Homo sapiens: one gene and its partners. The protein of the gene in region 2 interacts with the protein of the main gene of each other region in a biochemical or structural test. Each region holds a gene or a part of one and is shown on either strand. Other genes may lie near its edges.

Region 1 (7,112 bases), on a different chromosome or scaffold from region 2:
GTTTGTTTGTGTGTGTGTGTGTGTTTTCCTTTTTGTGAATGGGGGTCTCACTGTATTGCCTTTTTAAATATATTCTTTTTTTTTTTTCCTTTTTGTGAACAGCAGGTCTTGAACTCTTGGGCTCAAGCTATCCTCCTGCCTCTGCCTCCCTAAGTGCTGCCTGTAAAGGCATGAGCCACTGTGCCTGGCTTGATGATGTTGATGATAATAATAAAGTTAATATGTGCTGAGTAGGTGACAGATTTAGGATTTGAAACCTGGCAGCTTATCTCCGACATCTACAGTCTTAACCAGAAAGGAAGAGAATGAATGGTACAATCTTGCTTGTGGTTGTTAAGCTCCTTGAGGCCCACTTGTGCAGCAGGGCCAGGCAGGGAATGCTGACCTGCTGTGCCACACAGACCAGCCCCTCGGTTCACCAAGAGGGATGGGCAGAGCAGAGCTCAGGATGGGCATGGGATGCCCAGATTTGGTCTCAGTTGGCAAAAGGCCCAAGTCTGCAGGTAGATGCTAAATCCCTGGTCTGGATTTTGAGAACTTAGAGACCGTCACACTTCCTGCTGCCTTGGGCTTATATCCTCGGAGAAACAGGGAGTGACAACAAACTTAGAAGGTGAACTAGAGGTTGCCAAGGAAACTTTCCCACCCATCTTCCTCTCGTAGGAGTTGGGGCAGAAGGAAGGTTTTTTCCTGTTCATTGCCCGTTAGGCAGATGGGTAGGGTTGGAGGCAGTCTAGCAGCACTGAAAGGGAGGATGGGGCTGAGAAAAAGGTAGCCTGAGGAGACCAGGCTTTCAGTACCCTGCTGGACAGGGCTAGGGTACCCTTCAGGAGGCTGGCCCAATCAGGTGCCAGCAGGGCCTAGAAATGCCCTTCTCTCCAAGGGGTGTGAACCCTAGAGTTCCTTTGGAAGGGAAAAAAGCAGGTATTTAAAAATCCACTTGTCTTGCAGACACTGTTTGAGGACCAACCAGGCTTAGGTGAGCTACAGGGTGCGTGGAGAACAGAGCACCAGAGAGCTCTGTGGGCTGGAATGAGCAGACAATAAGAGCTGGGGGGCTTCATGGAGATGCAAAGGTTGATGAGGAAGAGAGAAGGAAGTTAAAAGGGCCTCTTCTGGGATGTGAGGAGCCTCCCCCTTCAAACATCTACCAAATGCATGGGATCTTCCTCCTCCAAGGTCCAACCCCATGTGTTTCTGGGATCTGGTCAAACAGCTCACCAAAAGACAGCCTGCAGCTACCATGCAAAGGCCCTACGTGGGCACAGTGAAGAAGGGGAAATGTCAGAATCAGGATACTGTACTTAACTTGCTGCTGTCGTTTCTGCCTGAAAAGCATCTGGTTGAGCTAGCAAGCTTCTTGTCTAGGAATGCTGGACAGTTCCTTGGGTAGTAGCAAGTCATTCTTTTTTTCTCTGTGGTTTTTGAGTGCTTCACGTACAGCCAGCAGGGGCCATGAAAGGAAGAACTTTCACTCACACTCCTCTGGTCACCCTGCTGCCCTCCAGACTGTTTCCTTGAAGTTTCCAAGGCAGCTCTGGATGGTTCTGGGATGAGGCTCTGGCCTCATATGCTTTGTTGCAGTATGCTGGAGCGATCGCTCCAGATGTTCTTTGTGAGATGTAAACCAGGGCGCTAATCAGGAGTTAGACCAGACTCTGCATTTTTTTTTTTTTTTTTTGAGACAGGGTCTCGCTCTATCACCCAGGCTGGAGTACAATGGCATGATCATGGCTCACTGCAGCCTCGAACTCCTCCTGGGTTCAAGCGATCCTCCCGCCTCATCCTCCAGAGCAGCTGGGACTATAGGTGCATGCCACCACACCCAGTTGATTTCTTAATTTTTTTTTTTTTTTTTTTTTGAGACGGAGTTTCACTCTTGTTGCCCAGGCTGGAGTGCAGTGGTGCGATCTCAGCTCACTGTAACCTCCTCCTCCTGGGTTCAAGCAATTCTCCTGCCTCAGCCTCCCTAGTAGCTGGGATTACAGGCACCTGTAATCCACCATGCCCAGCTAATTTTTTGTATTTTTAGTAGAGACAAGGTTTTACTATGTTGGCCAGGCTGGTCTCGAACTCCTGACCTCAAGCAATCCACCTGCCTCAACCTCCCAAGATTTCTTAATTTCTTAATTTTTTGTAGAGACAGAGTCTCCCTATGTTGCCCAGGCTCGTCTCAAGCTCCTGGCCTCAAGTGATCCTCCTGCCTCAGCCTCCTAAAGTGCTGGGATTTAGGCATGAGCTACCTTGCCTGGCCTAGACTCTGAACAGTTTTAGTGAGATACCATAAGTTTATCCAAGTTTCTTCTGTGTTGTAGCATATATTCTTTTTTACTGCCAACCAATATTCCCCGGTAAGGATATGCTACGTTTGTCTATCCGTTCATCCAGCTGATGGGCATTTGAATTGTTTCCACTTTTTGACTATTATGGATTATGGTGCTGTGAACCTTGGTTACAGGTTTTTTGTGGATTTCTGTTTTCATTTCTCTTTTGTATATACTGAGGAGCGGAATTGCTGGCTCATATAGTCTGTGTTTAGCACTTTGAGGAATGTACACGTCTTCACATAGATGTATGTTTTTTGTCTAGACCATACCCTTTTTGTACAGGTTGAACATCCGTAATCCAAAAGCCAAAATGCTCCAAAATCTAAACTTTTTGAGTGCCAGCATGATGCCACAAGTGGAAAATTCTACACGTAACCCCATATGACAGGTTATAAGCAAAATTCAATCACTTTATTTCATGCACAAAATTATTTTAAAATGTCATGAAATTACCTTCAGGCCATGTATATAATGTACACATGAAAAATAAATGTTTAGACTTGGGTCCCATCCCTGAGATATCTGATTATGTATATGCAAATATTCCAAAATCCAAAACAATTTAAAATCTGCCACGTTTCTGGTCCTAAGCATTTTGGATAAAGGATATTCAACCCGTATTATGTTTATATGCCTCTTCAGTGCTGGTAGTTGTAGCTTCTGCTTCCTCATCCCCTCATTTGAGCCGGGTGGCAGAGCAGGGCAGACTGCTGCCTTGCTCAGACCTAATCGTTCAGTTCTTTCATTGTACAAGTATTCATTGAGCAGCAAACATAAGCCAGTCTCTCTAAGTGCTGGGATGTATCAGTGAATAAAGAATATATGCCTGCTTTCATGTGCTTCCATTTTTACTGGGGGAGATGGCAAATAAATGTAAAGTGATAAATAACAAAGGTTCAGTGGGGCATTCGTAGTTCAGCGGCAGAAATTTCGTCTCCTACGCGGGAGACTCGGGTTCGACTTCGGCCATGCAGTCCTTCCATGCAGGAAGGGCTACTACGTTTCTACCCAACAAAGTTATTATGGCTGGGCGCAGTGGCTCACGCCTGTAATTCCAGCACTTTGGGAGGCCAAGGCGGGCGGATCACCTGAGATCAGGAGTTTGAGACCAGCCTGACCAACATGGAGAAACCCTATCTCTATTGAAAATACAAAATTAGCCAGGCGTGGTGGCGCATGACTGTAATCCCAGCTACTCGGGAGGCTGAGGTGGGAGAATTGCTTGAACCCGGGAGGTGGAGGTTGCGGTGAGCTGAGATCGCACCATTGCACTCCAGCCTGGGCAACAAGAGTAAAGCTCTGTCTCAAAAAAATAAATAAATAAAAAATAAAGGTTCATGTAAGTTTTGGGTGGCGATGAGGGCGTTGAAGCAGTTATGACCATGTAGCTACCATGACTTTGAGATGCAGTCTTCTCGCAGTGTGCACAGGCAGCATGGAGGGAGGCAGGGTACCGGCTCTCCCTCCTGAACCAGACGAGCTGTTGTGTTGCCAATGGAGGTTCAGGGAGCCAGTGATGGGACAGCTCTGCTCCTGAGCTTTGCCACCCACAGGACCTGGGCACTGGACCTTATGATGTGCTTCTCTGGAGTGAAGACTGGCTGTCACCTCAGCCCCCTCTCCTTTCTTCTGCTGCCATATCATTCTTCACATGCCTACCAGCCCCCTGGAATCTGCCCCTGCACCCTCATCCCTTATATATTTTGCAGAGAGCGTTTAGAGGACTGGAAGTGTGGCATGTAATGGTATCTCTGTTTCCACCCCGCAGCCCACCTTGGGACACCTTGACTCCAAGCCCAGCAGTAAGTCCAACATGATTCGGGGCCGCAACTCAGCCACCTCTGCTGATGAGCAGCCCCACATTGGAAACTACCGGCTCCTCAAGACCATTGGCAAGGGTAATTTTGCCAAGGTGAAGTTGGCCCGACACATCCTGACTGGGAAAGAGGTGAGCACTGGGACTGGGGACATGGCAGCACCTCCCAGCCCTGTTGACACTCCAGCAGGTGGTGATGGGACTACTACTGCAGCCAACCTCTTGTTTATCCGGCAGAAATGAGATCTGAGATATAGGGGTGCAAAAAGCTGTGGGATGAAAAGGAGTAAGAAATATAAAGGAGGAAGTAGATTGGAATCCTGGGTTTCGCTGGTCAGAGAAGTGATTTGGGGCCTTTTTGTCTCATCCTCAGGTAGCTGTGAAGATCATTGACAAGACTCAACTGAACTCCTCCAGCCTCCAGAAAGTAAGCACATGGCACCTCCTGTCCCTTTTTTTTTTTTTTTTTTTTTTTTTTTTGAGTCAGAGCCTCACTCTTGTCGCCCAGGCTGGAGTGCAATGGTGTGATCTCGGCTCACTGCAACCTCCGCCTTTTGGTTTCAAGCGATTCTCCCGCCTCAGCCTCCCGAGTAGCTGGGATTATAGGCACCCGCCACCACACCTGGCTAAGTTTTGTATTTTTAGTAGAGATGGGGTTTCACCATGGTAGCCAGGCTGGTCTCGAACTCCTGACCTCAAGTGATCCGCTCGCCTCGGCCTCCCAAAGTGCTAGGATTATAGGCGTGAACCACTGCCCCCAGCCCACCTGTCCCTTTCTAAATCTCTCTTCTGGGGTCAATGATCTACTGACCCCATTTAGACCTTCTCTTGAATTCCTAGTTTAAATTTTCTGGCCATTTCGCTCACCGTCCCCCAACCATTCCCTCCCATGGCTCTGCTACCTTCGGGGCTTTGGTTGGATCATCTGTGGTGACTCCTCCTGAGTGGGCTTCCTGGCCATAGGCACTGGCTCTTGTGAAGTCTTTCTGTTCATTCCCAGCCACTTGGCCTACCTGTCTGACCTACTTCCTGCATCTTGTTATCTTCTGGCTTGTGGCCAGCCCTATGCAAAAACACATGTTTGTAGCCACTACTAGAAACACGTGCAGCTACTTCAAGATCTGGAATGATACAGGGGAGTGGCTTTAGAAATACAAGAATAAGAGGAAGCAGGGAACCTGCCGGTGGGTTCTGTGCCAGCTACCTTTTAGAGAATGAGCTCCAGCTCAAATTTTCTGAACAAAACCTAGTTCTGTTCATCTTGTGGCAAATCAGATATTTTCTCCATAAGCATATTGTGGCAGTTGAGTTAGGAGAAGGCATGATTCGTGCTAACAGAGTCAGATAGTGATACTGGGAACCTTAGGAGTAAGGGCTGAGGATTGTTGTTGAGGGCGATGCTCATGGAATTAGAGTGGATGAGTTGTTCTCCGGACATGCAAATAGCCAGAACCAAGGTGTTTCCTATTTATTGTTACCCCTGGGATCCCTTCAAGGGTTCTTCAGTTCAGTAGAAACATTGTTGTCATCATCAGGGTGTCTCTGCTTGAAGCTTTCCAGGAGGAAGGGAAAAAGGGCTGCTTATGACATCCTGGCTCCAGCCCCACAGAAGAAGTCAGCGTGGGGTAGGCCATTTGGCCTTGGGAGCAGTCTAGCCTGCCATCGTAATAATCGCCAGTCCACCAAGCCATCTTATTCCTGACCTTGTTTTTCTCCCTAATTCTTCTTGGTTTTCTCCCTAATTCTTCCTGACTCTCTGGAAGGCACCAACACCAGACAAATAGAGCCATTTTCAAAACCTTTTGAGACTCTTTGTTACTAAAGCCAGTCTGATTCTGGCCAAAAATGTGATCTCAGCAATGATCCCTGAAAAATGAACATTGAAGAAGCTAGCCCCCTCAGGGGTCTAGACAAGCCCAGAAAACCCCAAGTTCTCCCAGAAGAATGTCACTTCCATGCCAGGTGAGCAGCCTCAGGGGAAGAAGCCCTGGCAGCTGCCTCTGGCCCTATTTCAGAGCTGCTCCCCATTACTGCCCCAGAGGGTGGTATCCAGGCTTTTTGCCTCTCCATCCAAAATATCTGTTGGACCAGGGAAAAAAGTAAGAAAAACCTAGGCCCTAATAAAGGGTAAGGTCAGCATTGGGTTCCTGAGGATTGGAAAGCCTTTTTCTTCTTTTCCTTTCTAGCTTAGGAAAGCTCTGGGGCATCATTAAAGGGGAAACAAATGTATTCACTTTATTCCATAAACCATATCTTGAATTAGGGCTTCCCCTACCCCCAACAAAAACAACAACAAAAACTAGTTCTGTTCTTTGTGCAAGTGATGAGGCCTGAAATTACAAAAAGCCCCACCTCCAGTTCTCTGGCCCCCGCAGAGGGGAAGGAGTTCATTTCTGTCATCTTTCTTTATGGAAATACATGGTTTGGAGCCCCTGGTTTTGTTTCACAAAGAGAGCGTGAGTGTGTGGAGGTGGATTTGATTAAAATTGGCATCAGCTATATATAGGAGTGGCTTCTTCTGTCACCACCCTAGAGGCCCAGGAAGGAAAGGCCTATCCCCTAGAACAGAGCCCTCTGACTACTGTAAATCAGAAAATGATGGGGTCCCCCTCTGGTGCTCTACCACCCCTTTACACAGACCAAGCTGGGGTGTGTACTGTCACTGAACCAAGGCAGCAGCTCGGATTCTGAATATTCACGCACACGGGCTCACACTCCCTCCAGTAGAGGCACCCAGCCAAAACCTGCCTGCTGTTTTGGGGCTGGATTTGGTAGACGCAGCAGAGGGCATGGCTGGCTCATCCTGATGCCATCCCGGGTAGCACGTCCCCACAGCCAGCCCTCCTCCAGCTTCCCCAACTTCCCAGCCACAGGGAAGGCCGTGCATGAGCTAGACAACCACCCTATTTTCTTTTCCCTGCCCGGTTTTGGTTTTTTGGGAAAAACAAATCCTGGCAGGGACTGTTTGG
Region 2 (7,112 bases):
GGCTCTGGGATAAAACCACAACAACACTGACAGCAACAGAAAAGGATGACTTATTCTGTGTTACTAGCTTTAATGTATGTTAATTATTGAATGAAATAGCAGTGAGGATATTCTTCGATTGTATATGCATCCCAAACCATTTTATTATTTCATGTTTAAAATGTTCCAAGCAGTACTTTCTGCATCACACACTCTACTGGCAATAAATTTCACTTTTTAAAAATTCTTAGTCTTGGCCTATTGTTTCAAAATATTTACTAACTTGTTGAACTTTCTAAAGCCTACTAATTAAGGCTGTTAATAATACAGTACTTGATGATGAACTTGGCATATGTGCTTTTAAGTTAGAGAAAGACAGGTCTACTTTTACCCAACACCAAATCCTTGGTCATTATAGATCAAATTCTTTCCAGTTCCTTTCTAACACTCACCCAAACCCAAGGCAAGTATACTACAACCATAAATAAATACATGGCTTTGTATTTATGAAACTACTTCATTACGTACCCTTGACAACTTCCTATTTCTGTTTAGATGGTAGAAATGGCTTTAAAATTATAAAATTTAAAAAATTATAATATTCAAAATGGCATGAAACAAAGTAATACTAAGTGAGGACAATAAAAATAATCACAATAACTTAACATAAAATGCATAGACATTTTTATTATGCCAATTTAATTATGCCAGCCTTTTGGATTGTCCAAACTCGAGGATTTGGAGAGCAGAAACCACACTCTCCGTCCCCCCACTTTCATCCAATTTCCCCCCAAAAAAGAAACCTGGAAGAGCAGATGAGGATCAAAATTTTCCTAAAGGAAAGTATTCCCTTTTAAAAAATGGAAAAGCAACCAATTTGGCATACAGCATGTAGACAGAGGATCTTTAAAATACATATATGATATGTAGACAATTCCTATGACTTAATCTAAACTAAAAATCTCTTAAAATATGTAAGTTTTAGAGTACCATGAAATATTACCTCTGTATAGTAAGCATTTGCCTTAAAAGAATCAAAAAAAGTCCCTTAGAGGAAGCCAGATTGGGACTAATGGGTCCATTCAAATCCAAATTTATCTACTGGCTTTTGCAACATAATTCAGCCAAAAGAATGTGATTCATATCTGAGCTATGTAACAACTAAATTTTCAGTGTGTTTTGAAGTAGATGCCACCACAAAAAAAGTAATAGTCATAACCTTGGCATCTAAACACTCTAAGCAATTTGATAATCTTTAAAAATATAAGAACTCAGTAATGTGGGTTCATTGAAGAACTTTAGAAAATATAAATCAGCAAAAAAAAAAGTAATAATCTCAAATGCCAAGATGACCACTATTAACATTTATTGTATACTTCACTAAATTTTTAAAAAACATTTTTCATATAAATGACTTCATATAATACATACTTGTTTACTTACTATATCAAGAACACATTTCTATATTCATACACACACACACACACACACACATCACACACATCTGTATCACTTTTTATGAATGCTTAATCTTCTACTTTATGGATATACCCTAATTTAGTTACCTCTACTGAGATCATGTATGATCTGTTCAGATGTGCTAGAGTAAAGAAACAGAATAATAGGTTTAAACAACTATTTCCTAAAGCTATTTGACCATAACATCCTTTTGTGAATTACACATTAACAATCCTAGAACTTTTGATCTTTTCGAAATACTTTGGGAAATAATGATCTAACCAATTCCTAATATTAGATTTTCATGGTGTTTACAATGTTTTCTATTATAAATGATACTGTGATCAATTTCTTGAGTGTACCTTTTTATGTATTGCCTAGGGAAAAACTCTAGAAACAGAATTACTCAGTTAATTGATATGCATGTGTTAAAAACATGTTATCATTTTTGCCAAATTGTTCTCCAGCAATATTTTAGGTTCATCAGCCTTTTTAAAAGATAATTTTAAATTAAAATAGTTTGGGAGTTTATATGTTCATTATATATACACGGTATTTCTGAAATTAGATAATTACTCTTTTATGGACACGGCTAAAGTACAAGTTATAAATATCAAAGGTCTTACTAGAATGAAGGCTGACTCAGAAAACTATTTAGGAATATACCTCCTCACAATTTATAGAAAATGACTAGTATGGAGACATTAAATCGTCTCTCTTCCATTTTCCTCTGTTATATTTACATATGTCTGAATATGTATTCCGTACTCCTAAGATGATATTAATAATCCCTTACATTTTTGTAGTACCTTATACCACTAAAACATTTAAAACAAAAAGAATTTTACAGGAAGAGAACATCCTCAAAGCATATTTTAAAACAAGATATTAAGCTATACCTTCAAAAGACCCGTCAAGCTACACAATAGTTGCTACATATTTACAGCCAAATCTGTAATAACTAAAATCTTTATCAATCAACCAACACCGGTATCATGGAGGAAAATGTGTATTTTAAGACAGTTAATTTAGATCTTATTTTCACTGTGTATTTCTACAGTTTCACATAATAAGAAACAAGCTCCTAACAGAACATAAAGATGGTTCACACAGCAAAAACAGGCTTTGGGTTCCTTTTTTGTCTTTAAAGTGACACTGGATGTAATTTTATACCTCAAAGTAACTTTTCAAAGTTACTTAAGTATAGTGTTCACACTCAGGGTGGAGTTCTGTGTAATTTTCAAGGCTGAGAAGTGTTCTGCCTGTTCAAAAATATCTCCCCTTTGAGTTTGTCTCAGAATCATATTTGAAGCTTTTTAAAAATACAGAAATTTTTATTCAATGGGTCTGGAATGGAGCCAATGCATCTGCGTTTTTTAAAACTCCCCAGTTGATTCATCTGTACAGCCAGAGTCAAAAAGCACTCGGTTATATAAAAAGATTGGAGGAGGGGGTGGTATCCTGAGGACCCCAATTTAACTGTTCGTGTGAAAACCATGAATCTGTCTGAGTCTGGTTTATTAGATTACCTAGGTGAAAATTTTACCTTGAGAAGGCTCATAAGATATTTCAAGGTAGGACACCTGTTGGCCTATCAATGGCTATGAACAGGGATGGGGGTGAGGATATATGGTAATGAAATCAAACTGTGAAAGATCTTTCCTGCCAGAAACTGTGGCACTTCCTACATTAAGCATATAATCCCTTCAATTTCCAGAAAATAGAAAGAGAAATGTTCGGTCGTATTTTATTTTAATGGAGTAGTCTTCCAAATGAACAACCTTTAGCTACAAGCAGCAGTTTCACTAAGCACAAAATTGGGTTGAGAAAGGATAGGACACTCAGAGATATTATACCTTTTACATATACCTTTTACAAAATTATAGTCATTTGTCAGAATTCAGTTTCTTAAAAGAACTTCACCTCCAAGAAGTTCTTGCAAGAACAATGCAAATCAATCCAAGAAACATAGGTTTTCTAAATACATAAAAATCCATAGCTTTCTTGAGCTTCCTTTACCTACCAGATCTGGACTTAATGATATCACTGAATTCGTTCTGCCCATTGTCAGGACTGGCTTCATGTTCTCCATACTTGGCCATCTTGCCAGAGTTTCAAGATAATCCAAAAACTTTACCAAGTCCTCTTTCTAAGGCTTTCAACTTCCTACGATGGTTCAGCTTGACATCAATACCTAAAAGGAAAAGGGAAAGTACTGACTTGAAAAAATGTATTTATATATTTTATATAGTTATTCGTAGTAACTATTCATTCACCAAATATTTATTGAGTGCCTACCACGTGTAAAGCACCAAGCCAGGCAATGGTGTTATGACTATGAACAAGAGACATAGCCTCTGCCATTACGGCGCTTATGCACACTAAGCAATTAATTACATAATGAATTATTTCATTACAATACTGACAGACTACAAATCATACAAAGGAGAAGCACAGAGTATTAAGAGCACACAGCAGAGGAGTCTGACCTGCCCTGGGCAATTAGAGAAGGCTTTCTTGAAGAGACATTTGAGCCAAGCCTTTAAAGATGACAAGAATTTAATTAGCCAAAAAGGGAAACAGAAAGAGAAAAGGTAAGAGCTTCCTATGTGAAGTGGCAGAAAGAATCATGGAGCAGTCAAAGAATGGAGCACAAGCCAGTGTTTCTGGAAAGAAGACAGCCAAGAGACAAGTGTACCTGTTGAACCAGGTGAAGAAGCTGGGCAGGACCAGGGATAGGACCATGGAGAACAGGTCAAGGGTTTGTGTCTTTATCTGAAGAGCAATGGGGAGCCAGTAGATGGTTCGAAGGAGGGAACCAACATGGTCAAATTGGCCTTTTTAAAAGATCGTCAAGGGACGGGCACGGTGGCTCATGCCTGTAATCCCAGCACTTTGGGAGGCCGAGGCAGGTGGATCACGAGGTCAGGAGTTCGAGACCAGCCTGGCCAGCACAGTGAAACCCTGTCTCTACTAAAAATACAAAAAAAAAAAAAAAATTAGCCAGGCATGGTGGTGTGCACCTGTAATCCCAGCTACTCAGGAGGCTAATGCAGGAGAATTGCTTGAACCTGGGAGGTGGAAGTTGCAGTGAGCTGAGATCACGCCACTGCACTCCACCCTGGGCAACGAGAGTGAGACTCCATCTCAAAAAAAAAAAAAAAAAAAAAAAAAAAAAGACGATTGTGGCTTGTAGGTAGACCACAGTAATATGTGGGGAACCAGTGAAGACTATGGCAGAATATAGCAAAATGCAAATTAAGGAACCTAGCTCATGGGTATATGAATGCTGAATGAAAATTTCTTGCAACTCTTCTGTATGTCTGAGAATTTTTTCATAGTAATATGTTGGGGAAAAATTCCTAATCTTAACCAAGTGATCAAAATTCACATAACCAATCATGGGGCATCATGCAATTGAATGGAAAATCACCACATCATCTACACAATATCCTTGCCAAGATGTTGAACGTGAATCTTCTCATGAGCAGACAAATCTAGACTGTGGCTAGTTTTCAAAAGAAATGGCCTGGTTTCTTCAAAACTGTCAGCGTCTTGAAAACCAAAATTACCTGGGAGAGGGGGAGCTTTGTGAATTAAAGGAGACTAAATAGACATGACAATGAAATGTAATCTTTGATTGAATTCAGAATTTTAAAATAAAACATTTGAGGATCATTTGAAAAATCTGAATTTGGACTATGTATTAGACAATATTATTGTATCAATGTTAAATTTCTTTAACATTAATTATGGTATTGTTGCAGGAGAATGTCTTTGATTGTAAGAGACATGTGGTGAAATATTTAGCAATGAAGTGTGATGGTATCTTCAACTTAAGTTCAAACAGAATAGCATATATCTGTCTATACTGATATAGGTATATTTAGGTTGATATATGTATGTAGATGTATATATGCATACACACAGACAGACAGAAAAATGCAGTAAGTATTGTAAAATAAGTGGGAAAACTAGGCCGGGCAAGGTGGCTCACGCCTGTAATCCCAGCACTTTGGGAAGCCAAGGCAGGTGCATCACCTGAGTTCAGGAGTTCGAGACCAGCCTGGCCAACATGGTGAAACCCCATCTCTACTTAAAAAAAAATACAAAAATTAGCTGGGTGTGGTGGCAGGTGCCTGTAATCCCAGCTACTTGGGAGGCTGAGGCAGGAGAATCACTTGAATCCAGGAGGCGGTGGTTACAGTGAGCCGAAATTGTGCTATTACTCTCCAGCCTGGGTGACAAGGGCAAAATTCCATCTCAAAAAAAATAAAGTAAGTGGGAAAACTTGTTAAAGGGCATCTGGGTCTAGGCGAGGTGGCTCACACCTGTAATCCCAGTACTTTGGGAAGCTTAAGCGAGAGGATTACTTGAGCCCAGAAGTTTGAGATCAGCCTAGGCAACATGGTGAGACCTTGTCTCTACTCCATGTAAATAAAAATTTTAAATAATAAAATAAAATAAAATAAAAAGGACATCTGGGTGTTTATTGTGCTATTCTTTCTATTGTAATATTATATGCAGGAAACAAGTGTGGTCTAAACAAGAGTAGATAGAAAGAAATGGGTGAATATGTGGGATATTTAGATATCAAAGAAAGTCAATAGGATTTGGGAATTGATTGGATATGAGAGATTCATATCCAATGTGCAAAATGTGCAAAATGACTCCCCAATTTTGGCTTAGGCAATTAGGTGAAGTGTGAGTCATTGAGCTGGGCAACACTGAGGATAGCAGGCTGGGAGAAAGGAATCATCAATGTGATTTGGATTTGCAGAGCTTGAAATGCCTCTGAGTTATATAAGCGGAGATGACAAAAAGAGAGTTGGGCCCAGCATGGTGGCTCATGCCTGTAATCCCAGCTCTTTGGGAGGCTGAGGCAGGCAGATCACTTGAGGTCCAGAGTTCAAGACCAACCTGGCTAACACTTGAGGTCAAGAGTTTGAGACCAGCCTGGCCAACATGGCGAAACCCTGTCTCTACTAAAAATATAAAAATTAGCCAGGCATGGTGGCAAACACCTGTAATCCCAGCTACTCAGGAGGCTGAGGCAGGGGAATTGATTGAACTCAGGAGGTAAAGGTTGCAGTGGGCCAAGATCGCTGCCACTGCACTCCAGCCTTGACGACCGAGTGGGTGAGACTCCATCTCAAAAAAAAAAAAAAAAAAAAGAGAGAGAGAGAGAGTTGGATATAAAGGATTGGATCATCAATCTGACAGATTTTATGAGAGTCTAAAAAACTTTTTTCATTTTTTATAGGCTCTACTACTGCTAAAAATTTATGGATTATTATATGATTACATTCTTTCATTCAAGTACATAACTATAAAGGATTTGCTAAATTCTTAAGTGTATTTTATTATATTCAAGAATCAAAAACTTTGTTCAGAAGAATGTCTATAAAAGTTTATCATGGAAAATTAAGTTTGCCCAGGGAAAAATTCTCTTTCCTGGAAAGAACTACAGTGTATCACTTTGGAGCAGTAAGTCTAATGCTTTTCTTCACTATTGGTCTTAGCCAAGATCTCCACTTCTATGCTACCCAAAGCCTTTATTCACCCATAAAAGAGAAAAGTCAACTGTTTACACACTACTTTATTCCATTTGCCCATTATCAGTAACACTTCTTCACTATAATGTTTCACTTGCCACTCTCCTCAAGGTGATTTTT
Region 3 (7,288 bases), on a different chromosome or scaffold from region 2:
CAAGCGATTCTCCTGCCTCAGCCTTCCAAGTAGCTGGGATTACAGGCAATACGCCACCATGCCCAGCTAATTTTGTATTTTTAGCAGAGACGGGGTTCTTCCATGTTGGTCAGGCTGGTCTTGAACTCCCGACCTCAGGTGATCCACTCGCCTCGGCCTCCCAAAGTGCTGGGATTACAGGCATGAGCCACCGCTCCCAGCCATGAATTTTTAATGTATGAAGAAATACATCAAAATGTTGATACTTGTTATTTCTGATAGTTGAATTATAAGTGCTTTTAATATTATTTCACAAATGTTTTCTGTATTTTTCAACTTCTCTACAATGGACATGTAACATTATCTTTTCATGAGAACATGGAAAGTTACAAGTTTTTATTATTAAGTTTAAAAACCAACGTATTTTTCACTAAGAATACATTCAGAATATAAGTATATAATTATAATTTTTAAACACATGAAAAAATACAAAAACAGAGGCTTGAGGATAAATTTCCAAAAATGATATGGCAAAATGATTCAGAGTTCACAATAGGTTATCTGTAAGATATGGAGCCATCAATTTCATAGTGTTATTTAAAAACGGATATTTTCTGTGATGTACTCACAGAAGAAAAACATAAAGAAATCCTTATTATTTATAGCCCCATTGTTACAATTCAAAGGAAAAGTGCATGTTTGAAATATCTTAAGGGTAAAATAGAATATCTTGATATTAAATTGTATAAATTGAGATGGCTTGCAACAGACTTGTTCTTTCATAAGAAATTTTTATGAGCAGAATAGATACTAATCCGATTAATATTTTTTAGGTCAGCTGCTCAAAGTGGCCCAAGAAACAATGTGCTTGCAAAAATTGTTCAGTAGATCACAATCTTTTTTTGTTGCTGTCAACACACTTTCTTTTTTAATTTAAACCAGTGCCCTAACAATAAAGCACTTTGTGGTATGAAAAAATAAATAATAATTTTTAACTATGATGTGAAAATTGCATTTTCAGAGGTTCAAATTGTTTTGCTTGTTTTAATTTCATTAACATTGGCCATCAACGTTTTTTGCAGCCATGTTGCTTAATTTAAGCGCGTGACTTCTGAGCCCATGTTGTTACCTTGAGTTTGTAGGAAATTAGGTGCTCTCACATCTGAAGAGAGGGCAGTGAAGCATATAACTTTGAAGCTCCCTCCTGCTTCTATGGGACTAGGATTTGGCAAATTGACTTCCTGGGGTACCTTCTGAAGCATCATTACCTATGTCTCAAAAACTTTTTCTAAGTGATTGAATTCTTCATATGAAATTAAGTGGGTCACAAGAGCACAGATTATGTTGCATATTTTGTTCACATGAGGGGGAAGTTTAATTTTAACATTTGCAAAAGGGGATTTAAAACTTTGTGAAACCAAATATACTGGCGTCGTATTCCCTAGGGGTTAAAGAATCAACAGTCACTTTAACATCTGACAAAGGATGCACCTTCTGTTTGGCAATCAATCATATTAAATGCTCTAGTAACAGTGTACCTTAACTAGATAAATGATAAGCTCTTACATTTACAAAATGAAAAACAATTAGATACGTGTAATGGCCACATAACCAATCTCCAGGGGAAAAAAATGTACAAGGTAAACACTCCTGATGAAATGAATGCAGTCAGTGAGAGTCTCTATTCAGCCAGCCACACATGAGAATAGGTATGAATTATTCAAATTGGGGTTCAAATTATTCAAATAGTCTCTCCTTCATCAACTGTTTTGAAGAGGATTAGGGAGTGCTAATTTTCCGGTGTAGCTGCTCCTTGCCTTTTTGCCTGGTCGGCCTCACACATTTTTTTGGATTGGATCATCATGAGTCACCGCGCTGAAGGATTTTTCAAGGTTGGAGCAGTGCCAAAGCTATTTTAATCATCCCAACTGATTTGTTGTGGGGCTTTTCTTTCTTACTTACTTTTTAATGATAGAGAAATCTTGCAATGTGCAACATTCACTTTATTCTTTCTGGTAACTTCCTGCAATGAAAAATAAAATTGTTTTTTTCTACCACAGGCTTTTTTAACCCCTGGCTGCTTCTTTGTACCATATTCTTCAAAGGGATTTTAATGCTAATTTTCCTATACCATTGGCTTTGGTGTCAGGTAATTTCCTGAATTTGATTACGATGGAGAGAAGCAGCTAAAAGTCTACACTGGTGAGCAGTTTACAGTACTTGTTAGAGATCAAGGTGACCTTGTAAAGGCTTCTATTGACACAATATTGGTTAATTACTAGAAATGTAATCTATGTATATAATTTATATTTTAAAGCCCTTTATGATGAAGATTCTTTACAGTTCATCTTAATTTGAGAAAGTATCATTAACAAATAACATATAGACCATTTTTTAAGAATCCAAAATGAATACCACAATGAACTGCTGTACTTGTGTTTTTCTTCCATATTTAAAGATGAAAAAAATTAACTACCATGTTTAACATTCTTCCCACAGTCCATTTCATACTAGAAATATGCTTAACCTTCTGACTGATCAGTTGCTCCTAGCTGGTTTGTAGGTTGGAGCAAGCAGCCCTTGCTCTTTGCCTAAAAAGGTCTCTATATTTATGCTGTGTTGTTATGTAAACCTATGTTAGGAAACATAGGATTGTTAATGCACATCTTGTTGAAAATGACAGTTTATTCAGCAAAGGGAAGTCACGTGCCAGTCAGCTTTCTCATGGTCCCTCTTGTTCAAAAATCACATATTGACTAAATAATACTAGCCAGAATTTATTGAGCATTTAGTATGCTTCAAGCTTGGTGCTTCCCTTGGACTATCTCATTTAATCCATTTCCATTCCTTGTTAAAGTAGGAATTTTACAGAAGAGTAAACTGAGGGTTAGAGAGGTTAAGTAACCTATCCAAGATCACAAAAGTAGTATGGGCTAGAGCCAGATTTCAAATCCGCATCTGCTTGATTCCACAATTGCTCTTCTTAAGAACTCCTCTGCCTTGCCTCTCTTTGTGATGTGATGTACTAAGAAAAATTCTGTGCAGATCTCTGAAGGGTTTAACCACAGCAAGCCATGCTCTGAAGACAGTCCTGGAGGAGTTGAGGGAAAGCTTTCAGATGCCATCTTTATCCATTGAAGAAGTAGCCCTACCTAGTGCCAAGTCTTTTGATGGTTACTTGGTAGAGAAAGATGAGTAAGACAATGTTCCTGTTCCTCTGGGAGTCCATCTCTAAAGAGAGAAGATAGATATGCAAACAAATTATTGTGAAATGTAAGCTAAGTTTGGGAAATAAGGAAGGTTGTGCAAGAGCAGAGTGATTATGCGAGGCCTGAGGGATGAAGTAGCCATCCCTGGAGGACGGGGGCACCCACTGGCTGATTAATGTACCATGGTGGGAGGAAGGACCATGCTGACATGCTGGCAAGCGGGGAAGCTCCAGTCACCTGGGACTCCTTCAGCTTTTCCCTAAAGGACTGGTAATGCGCTGAAGGTGATTCCTTAAATCCTAACTACATAGCCATTGGTTTGGGGAGTCCCAGGATTGCTCAGAGTTTGTATCGTTTCAAATCCAAGACTGCTGCTCTTAATATAGAGCCCTCCCCACCTCAGCAAATATAGCCTGATCGATTCCAGCAGGCTGTGTTGCCTGCTTTAAATTTAAATGATAAATTTTAAAAGAACTGAAATCTGTTTAAATAACAGTTAAACACAGGGTTTTGATGAAAAGAAAATGAAGAATTTTACCTCCCACATCTAAGCTGTGATTAGAAGTTTGCTCTAGAAAAAAAGCACTTTGAAACTAGCCCTTCATACACTGATGTAGTGTTTTCAGCATCTGTGTTTACTGAATACATTACTGCATTTTTTAATGTTTCTAAAGGAGCTGTGGGATTATTGCTGCATTTCCTATTGAGTTAGTAACTGACATTTAAAAATATTTAGTTGGCTGATGTAGTAGATAATGATCAGTATTTCAAAAGATTAATGGTGACTTAAAATGCATAGAGATATTTCATTAGTTAGTTGGGAAACCTTTTATTCTTATACTTCTGTTATTTTTTTCTTGTTCATGAAGTTGAGTCAGCAAGAGAAGCATATTCAAATTAGACTTGTCATACAGAAAAAAAAATCTGACTTTGTCAGGGTGGGTGGAGGGGAAAAAAGCAACTTTTTGTCAGTCTTTTGTATTTCAGCAGCTGGATTCATTGCTACCATGGTAACGGACCACATGATGAGGTGTATTAGATTGCTGTGTGTTGAGCACAAGGGGAAGAATGAACACAGCTTTTTATTGAAGTTAAAGGTTACTTTGGAGTTTGTTTGGAAATGTGTAAGGTCAAATACTATAGTTTTCAGCATATGTAGTACTTCAGAGGAAGAATTAAGGGGCATGTTGGTGCATTTAACTACAAAACCAGGTAAGGTACAATTGAATCTATGAAACTGAACTCTCTGACTTCTGTCGCAGTGGCATAACTTGCTGGGTGGAATTTCACTGTCGCCCCCACCCCCACCCCCACATGGGCACCCGATAAATTTCTCCTGCCCACCCTCCTAGCTCCTCCACCTCCGGTTTCAGCTGTTTTTAATTTGAAAGTCTAAGATGTTGTGAAATGTTATAGTTTTATGGCAGTGTGTGTGTGTGGGAGTGTGTGTGTGTGTGTGTGTGTGTGTAAGTCAAAGAAAGAAAACTGCAAAGGAAGTAATAAGAATGCAATAACTGGTGTCTTCAAATCAGCGTAGACCTGAACAAAGTGTTTTCTTGTTTTGTTTTTTGAAAATGGTCCGCTTTTCTTAGAGGACACCTTATTAGTGGCATTTGTCCAAAGCTACTTGTCTCTTCTACTAAATTAAGCAGTAGGACAAAGTTTTCCAGCAAAGTTATCTAGTGTGTTTATTGTATGTGAGCTTTTGTTTTTCTTTCATCATATTATTGCGAGCCTCATCTAACATGTATAGTCCGGTTTTATCTATATTTTTTAAAACATCTATTATTTCTATTAGCATTCTAATCTTTTAGGCATTGTGGCTGTATGTGTGATACAGGATTTAAAAATAGAAGTAAATACAACATGGGTGAGTGCAAAATGAACTCTTTTGCTTAGAGGCTGGTAGGAACTGAATGTAAACAATTCAGTGTGGCTGTGTGGAGCATCAATTCCCAGAGCGCAGACGCCTTCTCATGCGTTGTTTACATATCACCCTGGCAGCTTGTTTCAAAATGGGAGGCTTTGGTACACACAGAGCAAGTTAAAGGAGAACAATTTCTTTAATAATAACTTATTTTAATTACTTTTTCATGGCTTTTACTGATGTTTGATGTTTGATGTTTGACTTTCTCATAAGATATTAGGATTTACTCTAATTTTAGCCAGGGGTTTACTTAATGCAACTTCTTTCCTTCCTCTTAGAACAAAGCTGTCTTAGCAGCTTTTAGAAATAAAACCTAATTAAATAGTAGCAAAGCCCTACTGTTATTCTAGTGTATTCACTGTCCACCTGAAAAAGTGCAGATATAGGAAAATCTTTTTGAAAAATACTTTCTTAGTGAACTAAAATCAATTATGTGCCCTTAATTGGCACTAATTAGGATAAAAGCCAATAAATTTTCCCAAGTTTGTTCATACAGCATGCTTTCTTACAAAAGGAAAACTTAGATTTTATTAAATTTATTTATGCTCTGTGATTTTCGTCGCTATTTCCTTGATCTCTCTAGTTTCCATATGTCCAAGCCATTTTCTAAGTTTAAGCAAGGAATTATAATCATTATTCAAAAAAATTATTTGCCATGATTTCAAATAAAGAGAACTGTTTCCATGATGACAGATATCAAAAGTACTATAATAGCATCTAATATTGTAAATGTTCATGCTTGTATCTGAATTTATTCCTTTCTTTTTCCCTTTGTTGTTTGAGTACAAATGAGCTATGACCATGTCTTTCAAAACATGAGATATTTTCATAAACATAAGTTGTTACTACTAGAGAATAGGGAGTTTCTAAAAATCAGTGAAAGATGGTACCTGGTAAACTATTCTAAAGTATGAAATTATTGAAACTGACAATATCTGAGGTAGAAAGTGTTATGTTTTATTAAAAGAAAAATAAAAGAGGGAAAGAAGAAGCAAGACAGAGACACAGAGAGAGACAAAAAAATGAAAAGATATACAAAAGGTAAAGATAAAAGTGTAAATGATCTCTTACCCAAGCATTTTTCTTTCCCGCCGGTACTGGAAAGGGTTAAATCTGTATCTGTCAGAGAAGAGAGTAGTATGGATGAGGGAAATTACTAAAAAGTATTTTTATTTCACTATTCCATCTTTAAAATACATGATAAAGTATAGATAGTTCCTTTCTATTAAATAAAATGAAAAAAAATCTACAGTGAGGTTGTCTCAGTCTTTGTAGTTATGGGCTACCAGCCAGCTTAGATATTAGAGCTACAAGTGTGTAAAAACCAAGATATGCCCAAATTTCTGTGATCTTTATTCATCTGACATTAGACCATATGTACACAAAAACTTCTGAAATAATTTTAACAGAGATCACAAGATGGAAGATTCTTTTATAGTTGTTTTGGTATTTTCATTCTTAAGAAGCAAAATTGACTTTTGATGTACTTGCTTTAAACTGTAAATTTTGCCAGGATGTTTTAATTGTACAGTATTTGTTTCAACTCTTGTTTAAATTATGCTTTCTTGTTAATTTTGAATAATTTGTAGTGTTTGTTAACATTTTAGCTTTAATCTCTAGAGCTGCCTAGAGTCATAGACCAATAGATAATTATCTGCAAACATTTACCTCTACTAAGGAGACAGATATTTAACAGTTTTTTAACATGTTAAAAAACAACCATATTGAGTAAAATAGTATAGCCTCTGCTAAAAAATTAATGATATTTAAATTCCAAGAAAATATTTCTAAAATAGATGAAGATCAAGCCAATGAATGATGACTCAATATCATCTAGATACTCCATTTTTAGGAGTTATTTTTTAACCTCCGATTTTATTAAGGTGAATTTTATTATTGACCACTATGTAATTTTTGACATGAAAAGAATTGGATTTTTTTTTTAGAAATCTAAGACTTTTCAAATGAAAAAGAAAGTAATGGTACCATGATCATGATGATAATGATAACGACAATAATGATTAATTTGGAGAATAAGATAGATTAGAAAGCTCTTGCCTCTTTGTGTAGTAAAAGGCCAATGCTCTTAGAAGGAAAGTGGAAATTACTAATGGGTAGTATGATTCTCAGAAATTAACCCTCAAATTTAATTAATTATGTTAATAGCATTTAT

Evidence for each region.
Region 1: the proteins of UTRN (region 2) and MARK2 form a complex in vitro, tested with the Homo sapiens proteins (one study listed by BioGRID).
Region 3: the proteins of UTRN (region 2) and DTNA form a complex in vitro, tested with the Homo sapiens proteins (one study listed by BioGRID and IntAct).

Annotation. Positions count from the first base shown.
Region 1 is NC_000011.10:63,891,064-63,898,175, forward strand, and holds part of MARK2 (serine/threonine-protein kinase MARK2), read left to right. Parts: intron 1-4,095; coding exon 4,096-4,275; intron 4,276-4,516; coding exon 4,517-4,570; intron 4,571-7,112. UniProt on the Homo sapiens protein: Serine/threonine-protein kinase. Involved in cell polarity and microtubule dynamics regulation. Phosphorylates CRTC2/TORC2, DCX, HDAC7, KIF13B, MAP2, MAP4 and RAB11FIP2. Phosphorylates the microtubule-associated protein MAPT/TAU.
Region 2 is NC_000006.12:144,288,256-144,295,367, reverse strand, and holds part of UTRN (utrophin), read right to left. Parts: intron 3,632-7,112; 5' UTR 3,540-3,631; coding exon 3,461-3,539; intron 1-3,460.
Region 3 is NC_000018.10:34,706,046-34,713,333, forward strand, and holds the start of DTNA (dystrobrevin alpha), read left to right. Parts: upstream 1-4,252; 5' UTR 4,253-4,400; intron 4,401-7,288. UniProt on the Homo sapiens protein: May be involved in the formation and stability of synapses as well as being involved in the clustering of nicotinic acetylcholine receptors.